2 separate regions of the Homo sapiens genome follow, and region 1 is linked to region 2. The links come from fine-mapping of genetic effects on gene expression. A gene starts in region 2. The other region holds a variant in brackets. All regions are shown on one strand. Distances are from middle to middle. Region 1 overlaps WEE2 (WEE2 oocyte meiosis inhibiting kinase). Region 2 holds the start of TAS2R4 (taste 2 receptor member 4).

Region 1 (4,395 bases), 60 kb before region 2:
TTTTCATAGCTAGCTAACAGAATTGCCCAGGGGAAGGGGTTGGAGCTTGACTAAAGTACAGATTCCTGTGTTGACTTCATGAATCAGAATATCTAGAGGTAGAGACTGGGATTCTATAGTTTTCATAAGAGGAGCAGTTACAATGCAACCAGTTCACATGGAACCAGATAATTTCTAAGGCCCCTTCAGCAAAAGCATTCTTAGATTCAAATATTAACTAGCTAACTGATAAGGAATGTCTTTACTAATGCTATTATGACTTGCCTTTTGTCATCCTCATTCAGACCATGCTGAGCCGGTTGGTGATTTCTCCAACAGGGAAGCTTCCTTCCAGAGGCCCTAAGCATTTGAAGCTCACACCTGCTCCCCTCAAGGATGAGATGACCTCATTGGCTCTGGTCAATATTAATCCCTTCACTCCAGAGTCCTATAAAAAATTATTTCTTCAATCTGGTGGCAAGAGGAAAATAAGAGGAGATCTGTAAGTGCTCTATTACTTATGACTTTTGAGAACTGACCCTACTACAGTCAAGTAGTAAGAAGTGAGTGTTAAAGTAAGATTAGGAACGAGAACTCTATTTGAATGAAATGTATATGCTTACATATTCTCCCCTTCCTAGATATCAATGCTGGTTTTACCTGCTTTATCACAGAGATTCCAACATCTTTCCATTCTGATATGTACTGTAGATGCTTTCTCTATAAAAGGATAAGACAGAATAAGCAATAGATCTCTGGCTTCTATTAGGAAGTTGAGTGGGCTATGGAATTGCATTCAAGGGGTCCCCTCTGGTTAATATGAGGCTGGCAGTTGGGGAACGTGTAGCTCAAACTTCAAAGAGTACGTTGCTGCTTTGAGTCTTGTGTGACTAGTGATGAAAGCTATAGAGCAAGGATTTGAACTTCTCTGTGGGTGATGGAAGATTGGCTGAAGCAAAAAAGCATTGCTTTCAGAGCTGCTAAAGAATAGAAAGCCAAACTGTACTATTCCATAAAGGGCCCTGAATGACAGAAATCATCCAAATAAGGATTGTGCATATTACTCAGGAACATTACTATGTCTCTCCAAGGCTTTTTTATAGAATGGAATCGCCTCCAAAGTGGGGCAGTCATTTATGTTCATATGTACTCAGCGAAATAAATGGACAGCTAACAATGTAAACTTTGCAGAGCATTTAATGTGCTATGTCAAGTTGTTTCTTTGGAGTCAATGAGTATGTGTTAATCAGTCTTTGACCAGAATAGGTTCTCTCAACACTATCTCCTTCTTACTTAAATAAACAGGACTTCAGCACAAGTCCACCCACCTACTTTGGCTACCAAGAATTCGATTGGTTTTAGTTCTTAAGGAGTCTCTGTAAATCATTATACTCTCACCGAAGCCAGCAACAAAGACAGCTAATATGAAATCCTGACACTTTTGTAGCGTCATTTGGTGCTTCTAAGAGAGTATTTTTCCTTATTTTTATAATTTATAAACACTTCATAAAGTATTACAATGTGGTACTAAATCACAAATACCAAGCATTGATTTATTTCCATGAATGTAGTGCCTTCCATTTGCCATTTCTACCTTGTGTTTCTCCAAAAGAAAAATCTATAGCTAGTTGAAATCTTGCTTAAGGATCCAGAATACAAGTATGCATGGCAAAGAGGATGTCTGCTGGTCACTTAGCTTATCGAAGAGTAATTGAAAATATCTCATCCCGGGTTAGAGCAGATTCTGCCCTACTTGCAGTCTACCTGTGAACCGATTACAAAGCCAGATTCTAGGGGAGGGGTGGGTGTCGGAAAGAGAGTGTGGTGTGGCAGTGAGGAGCAAATGCTTTGGTGTCAGACCTGGCTCCAAGTCCCAGTTCTGCCACTTGCTAATTGTTTGACCTAGAGTTATTTAACCTCTCTCTGTCTTGGTTTCCTAGTTTGGGGATAAAGATACCCATTTAACAGTTGCACATATGTTCTGTGCTCTCTTGCTCCAGCACATGGTGTTTTACCTGCTGAAAACCTCACTCTTTTCCCTTAGCTAGTTCCTACTCGTTCCCAGAATCTTGGCTTATATATTCTCTCTTCTGGGAAAGCTTTTCACTCTTGAAATAATTGAGTGCTGTCCATGGTATCCTTGTTATCTTATCCAGTTCTAGGTTCTTGTATTGAAATTTCCTGGTTATCCCTGCCTCCACATATAAACCGAAGAGAA[A/T]TGAATTGTCTTATTTACTCTTACATCCCTAGAACCTAGCATAGTTCGGCCTCAATAAATATTAATTATATATTGATAAACTTTTTTTTTCTTTTTTAAGTGAGGAAGCTGGTCCAGAGGAAGGCAAGGGAGGGCTGCCTGCCAAGGTAAGCGTAGTTCTTTGTCCCAGCGGCCACAATATAGGCAGTTTATCCTATTCTTTCTCTTCTTCCCCTCCCCTTCTCCCTCTCTCTCCTCCCTCCTCCCTTCTTCCCTACCCTCCCTTTTCTCCTTCCTCACCCTCCCCTCCTCTCCTTCACCCTGCACCCTCCCTCCCCTTCTTCTACCCTCTCCTTCTGCCCTTCTCCTTCTGCCCTCTCTTCCCCATCTCCCCTCCTCCCCTCCTTTCTCCTACTCTCCTTCTCTCCTCCCCTCCCCATCTCACCCCATCTCACACGCTAGCTTTGTAAATGTGCTTTGCAGCTGAATTTATCTGGACCCTAGTCAGGGTCTGTGTTCTCAGCTAGTTGTAACTCTGCCAGGCAGTGTCTGATATGTATATGCTGGATCATTACTTTAGAGTAATTTTAAAATTACATATTTCTGCTACTATTTTAATCTGGAGAAAAACTCTACACTCATGGGGTAGAGAAGTGAAGGGAAAATTAAGATATTTTTGGTCTCAAAATAGAAAAAGATAATGGAAAAAAGGGGCATAGAGCCAGAGATTTATATGTAAAATTTTAGCTCTTAAATGTATCAATATTTGATTTTATAATGTTCACAATCTTTGATCCATCCCTCATTTGATAATCTAACCTAAGAAAATAATACTGCAAACATTATCCTTAGAGATGTTTATTGTAACAGCAAAAAAGGGGGGAGACCAAATGCCTGATAATAGAAAAATGGCTAAGCTAATTACAGTTTTAAGTCAGTGAAATACTAAATTGCCATTAAGATGTTTATAACACCTTGAAAACATGCGTATGTTAATGTTTAGTGTGCAAAAGACTCAAAATTTTATACGCTGAATGACCATAACTATCTATTGCACATTAATCACAGGGAGAATGAAATGGAGCTATAACCACTGCTATTTCAACATTTTTGAATGGTGGAAACTTCATATTTGTTTTTCCTTTAAATTTTTAAAGTTTTCTGAAGCAAGTTTTATTTGCGTAAATAAATATGTTAATATGTTAAAATGTTAGCACTTGGCTATTGTAAACATCACAGAAAAGGCGGCCACTGGCACAGGTGTTCCTTCAAATGCAAATGTTTCTGACTTATGCCTCCATTATTTTACTGTTGGATTTTATTCCTCACTTATTTTATAATTTATCTCTTGATTTCAGATAGAAATTCTAATATTTATTGAACATTAAATAAGTGCAAAGCATTGTATTTAGTTACACCCTTTAAGGAAAAACATCTGGCCAAACAGGAGTTAAAACCTTTGAAATTTCAAAACAATCTATATGTAAATTAGAAGCTATGAGATATATGTATTTGTGTATATGTGTATGTACATATGTGCAATGTGAATATACATATGCGTGTATATCTTTAAAATCTAGAAGTGGTTAGTAAATACTTCTATGAAATAGAGCTTGGGTAGGAAGAGATTGTATATTAAGATAATTTTAGGCTAAGGAAGTAAATAACTTTTAATGCTATCAAGGCAGGAGAACAGAGTTCAGGTGTAAGAGGGGTATGGTGGGTGGGGAGTGGTCAGGGATAGATGCAGATGGTATACTGGCTTCATTGGTATCTAGGGGGAGGGTAGTCAAGTAGTGAGTGCGCAGTTGGTAGAAGGTCTTGAGGCTTTCTTATCAAGAGTTTGAATTTCTCATGGGAAACAATTAGGCATCTCTGATTCTGTGGTATCATTTTGCAAAAATAATTCTTACTATTAGAAGAGTTAAAGAGAGGGCTGGTAGCTGTAGCCAATCCAGACAAGAAGGGAACAGAGCTTGAGACTGGCTAAGGGTAATGAAAATTAAGAGATCTTGCTGATGAAAGTGACCAGAATTAGATGTTGAAAATGAGGAAGTAGTAAAACCCAAGATTTTTCAAACTCATAAAGTTGGAGAAAAATTCTTCAGGATTGGGACACTGAGAAAAGATGACTTTGGGAGATAAATCAGCTTGGATTTAGATTCATATAAATTTATGGAGATTTTTGGTCATAATAGTTTAATGAGAATTTACTATGT
Region 2 (4,395 bases):
TTAGGAGCTCTTTTAGCGCAGGCCTGGTGGTGACAAAATCTCTCAGCAATTGCTTGTCTGTAAAGGATTTTATTTCTCCTTCACCTATGAAGCTTAGTTTGGCTGGATATGAAATTCTGGGTTGAAAATTCTTTTCTTTAAGAATGTTGAATATTGGCCCCCACTCTCTTCTGGCTTGTAGAGTTTCTGCCGAGAGATCAGCTGTTAGTCTGATGGGCTTCCATTTGTGGGTAACCTGACCTTTCTCTCTGGCTGCCCTTAACATTTTTTCCTTCATTTCAACTTTGGTGAATCTGACAATTATGTGTCTTGGAGTTGCTCTTCTCGAGGAGTATCTTTGTGGCGTTCTCTGTATTTCCTGAATGTGAATGTTGGCCTGCCTTGCTAGATTGGGGAAGTTCTCCTGGAGAATATCCTGCAGAGTGTTTTCCAACTTGGTTCCATTCTCCCTGTCACTTTCAGGTACACCAATCAGACATAGATTTGGTCTTTTCACATAGTCCCATATTTCTTGGAGGCTTTGTTTGTTTCTTTTTATTCTTTTTTCTCTAAACTTCTCTTCTCGCTTCATTTCATTCATTTGATCTTCCATCACTGATACCCTTTCTTCCAGTTGATCGAATCGGCTACTGAGGCTTGTGCATTTGTCACGTAGTTCTTGTGCCTTGGTTTTCAGCTCCATCAGGTCCTTTAAGGACTTCTCTGCATTGGTTATTCTAGTTAGCCATTCGTCTAATTTTTGTTCAAGGTTTTTAACTTCTTTGCCATGGGTTCGAACTTCCTCCTTTAGCTCGGAGTAGTTTGATCATCTGAAGGCTTCTTCTCTCAACTCGTCAAAGTCATTCTCCGTCCAGCTTTGTTCCATTGCTGGTGAGGTGCTGCATTCCTTTGGAGGAGGAGAGGCACTCTGAGTTTTAGAGTTTCCAGTTTTTCTGCTCTGTTTCTTCACCATCTTTGTGGTTTTATCTACCTTTGGTCTTTGATGATGGTGACGTACAGATGGGGTTTTGGTGTGGATGTCCTTTCTGTTTGTCAGTTTTCCTTCTAACAGTCAGGACCCTCAGCTACAGGTCTGTTGGAGTTTGCTGGAGGTCCACTCCAGACCCTGTTTGCCTGGATATCAGCATCAGAGGCTGCTGAACAGTGGATATTGGTGAACAGCAAATGTTGCTGCCTGATCATTCCTCTGGAAGTTTTGTCTCAGAGGAGTACCCAGCCGTGTGAGGTGTCAGTCTGCCCCTACTGGGGGGTGCCTCCTAATTAGGCTACTCAGGGGTCAGGGACCCACTTGAAGAGGCAGTCTGTCCGTTCTCAGATCTCCAGCTGCATGCTGGGAGAACCACTACTCTCTTCAAAGCTGTCAGACAGGGACATTTAAGTCTGCAGAGGTTTCTGCTGCCTTTTGTTTGGCTATGCCCTGCCCCTAGAGGTGGAGTCTACAGAGGCAGGCAGGCCTCCTTGAGCTGCAGTGGGCTCCACCCAGTTCTAGCTTCCCAGCCACTTTGTTTACCTACCCAAGCCTCGGCAATGGTGGGTGACCCTCCCCCAGCCTCACTGCTGCCTTGCAGTTTGATCTCAGACTGCTGTGCTAGCAATGAGTGAGGCTCTGTGGGCAAAGGACCCTCCGAGCCAGGCGCGGGATATAATCTCCTGGTGTGCCGTTTGCTAAGACTGTTGGAAAAGCACAGTATTGGAGTGGGAGTGACCTGATATTCCAGGTGCCGTCTGTCACCCCTTTCTTTGACTAGGAAAGGGGATCCCCTGACCCCTTGCACTTCCCGGGTGAGGCGATGCCTCGCCCTGCTTCGGCTCACATTCGGTGCGCTGCACCCACTGTCCTGCACCCACTGTCTGACACTCCCCAGTGAGATGAACCTGGTACCTCAGTTGGAAATGCAGAAATCACCCGTCTTCTGCGTCACTCATGCTGGGAGCTGTAGACTGGAGCTGTTCCTATTCGGCCATGTTGGCTCCACCTGAAAAAATTTCAAACTTCTAAATTCCTGTTTCTTCATGACTGACCTCATTCTTCAGAGCCATCATCAAATAAGTTAAGTGCCATTCATTTGCTTTGACTATTTGCCCTAAAGCCTTTCTTACAGACCTGTCAAGAAGCAGAGTTTGGATCCATGACTGCAGTGCCTGCTGGTTGGTCTTCTTGGGCTCTAGTAAATAATCAAACTTATAAGACTATCTTAGGCTACTGTGGTACCAGCCTACTCAGATGGATATAGTTGAGGGACCCGATTTACCAGCAGGGCAGTGTCAGGCCTTCCTCTTTTGCAGAGTTTTTGGTGCAGGCCATACAGTTCAGGTACAGTAATAAGAGACCCACAGTAGGGTAAGGGTGGGAGCTGCTGCAAATTAAAAGCTTCGTGTCCCAAAAGATCCAATTTATTTTGTGGTAATTTTGTAGACAAAGCTTCTAGGGTTGAGTCAAGGTACAGGTACATGGGAAGGAAGCCCAATGCATGTAGACTCCATAAGATACTTATTACAGTTCACTTATAGTTCCTTCCAGTCAAGATGCAATTTTCCAATCAAGAGTCTTTTTTTTTTTTGTTCTAGAAACATAGTTGATGTTCTTACCCTTATCATATAAGGATAAGATTATCCTTATCATCCTTATCATCATGATAAGGAAAACAGCTAGGAAGTTTAACCATAGGTCAAATTCTCATGCATAGGGAGAAAGGGTTCTGCTAACACTTTTCCTATACTGACCCTTGTGGAAATAACTTCTAACTGAATGAGCTCATTCATTGATTGTGCTAGCCAACCTTATCACATCTTAATTATAGCACTTCCTCCTACAGAGAACCCAACAATTTGGTATAGTACATTCTAGATAGAGTTTGTTACTATCTAATTCTGGGATTCCTGCTCTTTTGGCCACATTTATCTGTTATGGCTTACTCTATATCATTTATTCTATTTAAATGTGATGTTAGTAATATTTCAACTTCACCACTTTAATGCAGCCATCTATGGATAAGTAATTGGAAATCTGTGCTATAATTTTCCTTTTAGTCATAGTCTTCCTGGCTCATTCTGTTTGCCTGCTTACCTGATGTGGGCATGCCTCTATCAGTGCCTGTTAGTTTTGAATAAAAAGCTTCTGTAAGCACCTGGGCACCAGGTCAGAGAATTTCTCCAGGCTAGGCTTCCTGTCATCTGTCTTAAAGGGCCTCATGAATGTATTCCCCTCTTCTGGACCTGATTATTATTAAATCTTAGCTCCTTTTTCTTGTCTGTTTCTATTTGGACTTGGCAGTAGGACTTTGTGCTGTACCTTGATGCTACTTTGGTAACATCTGTGGCTGCATCCAGGATTGCACCTTGGTTTCATTCAGCTGCTAGAGAAGATAAGAGATGCCATACTCTTACATTCACCTATGGGCCTCCATAATATCATTTGCCAGGGATATTTTGCCATTTCCCATCTGAGCAAGTACAGAGAAATCCAGCAATGAGATGCCTAGCTGTTTGGCTCACAAAACTACAACTAATGCATTACTGTGTATCTCATTCCAGGGTACCTGGATTGACAGTTAAATGCCTAAGAGAAAATAGCCACATATGATCTAAACATAAACCCAGATTTATAAAGGAAACACCTACAAGGGCTGACTTAATTTTTTCTAAGGAAAACCAGAACATAGCAAATGGTTATGGCACAAATCTATGTATGTAGATAGAGAAGGCAAAGCAAAGGGCATCAGAAAGAATGGGATTAATTGAGAAAGGTTTTCTCAAGGAGGTATTGGGTCTTTGAACTTGATCTATTAGATCACTGTAAATCGCTATAGGTGAATCACTGAGGTTGAAAGAGTGGCATTGGCATGGCCAATTGGTGAAACTTGTTGTGGCAGCAACAGATTAGAGGGGAGAGAGAAATTGGATTCTGGTCATCCATGAATATGTGGCTAGGAGGTGGGTGGGTAGGAGTGAGGAATTAGGATTTCCACCATATTCTGGCATTTTTATGAAGAAAAACTTTACCGTAAAACATTGACAGAAACATTGCTGGACTCAAGCTCTCTGGTTTGGATTCTAAGTTTTTGGAGCCTGCTGTGACTCTTCCCTCTCGCCCTCCTGCTCTTGGAGGAGTGGACTCCCAGCATCACCTAGGCTTGCTGTAATTAGGCATTTCTAAGGAGAACAGGATACTAATGAAGAAATAGTAATGTAATCCTTGGAAGATTTGCATCTCAGTAAAATCAGGTGGCCCTTGATCATGAATGGCTCATTTGCCATGCTGGGAAAAATTAAAAAGGAGATGTCCTTCCTGGCTGGATACTGGTGTCTGCTTATACATTTTGGTATTTCTTCTGCCTCCACTATCAGCACCACAACTGCTGAATCCTCAATGAGTAAAGATGCTTCGGTTATTCT

The links. PIP is the estimated chance that this variant, and not a neighbour inherited with it, causes the effect. A credible set is the group of variants that fine-mapping cannot tell apart.
Region 1: its variant is the best candidate, but not a certain one, in a credible set for the expression of TAS2R4 in tibial nerve (GTEx, PIP 0.51).

The regions. Positions count from the first base shown.
Region 1 is chr7:141,713,925-141,718,319 of GRCh38, forward strand. WEE2 (WEE2 oocyte meiosis inhibiting kinase) reads left to right here. Exons shown (of 12, transcript NM_001105558.1): 2 at 285-481; 3 at 2,298-2,343. All of the region lies in intron 3 of WEE2-AS1 (WEE2 antisense RNA 1), which reads right to left. Among named protein-coding and RNA genes, the nearest start is that of WEE2, 7.8 kb to the left of the region's middle. RefSeq lists a silencer at 1,191-1,391. The variant A/T (reference allele first, on the strand shown) is at 2,198.
Region 2 is chr7:141,774,110-141,778,504 of GRCh38, forward strand. TAS2R4 (taste 2 receptor member 4) reads left to right here and starts at 2,565. Exons shown (of 1, transcript NM_016944.2): 1 at 2,565-4,395. The coding sequence starts at 4,380.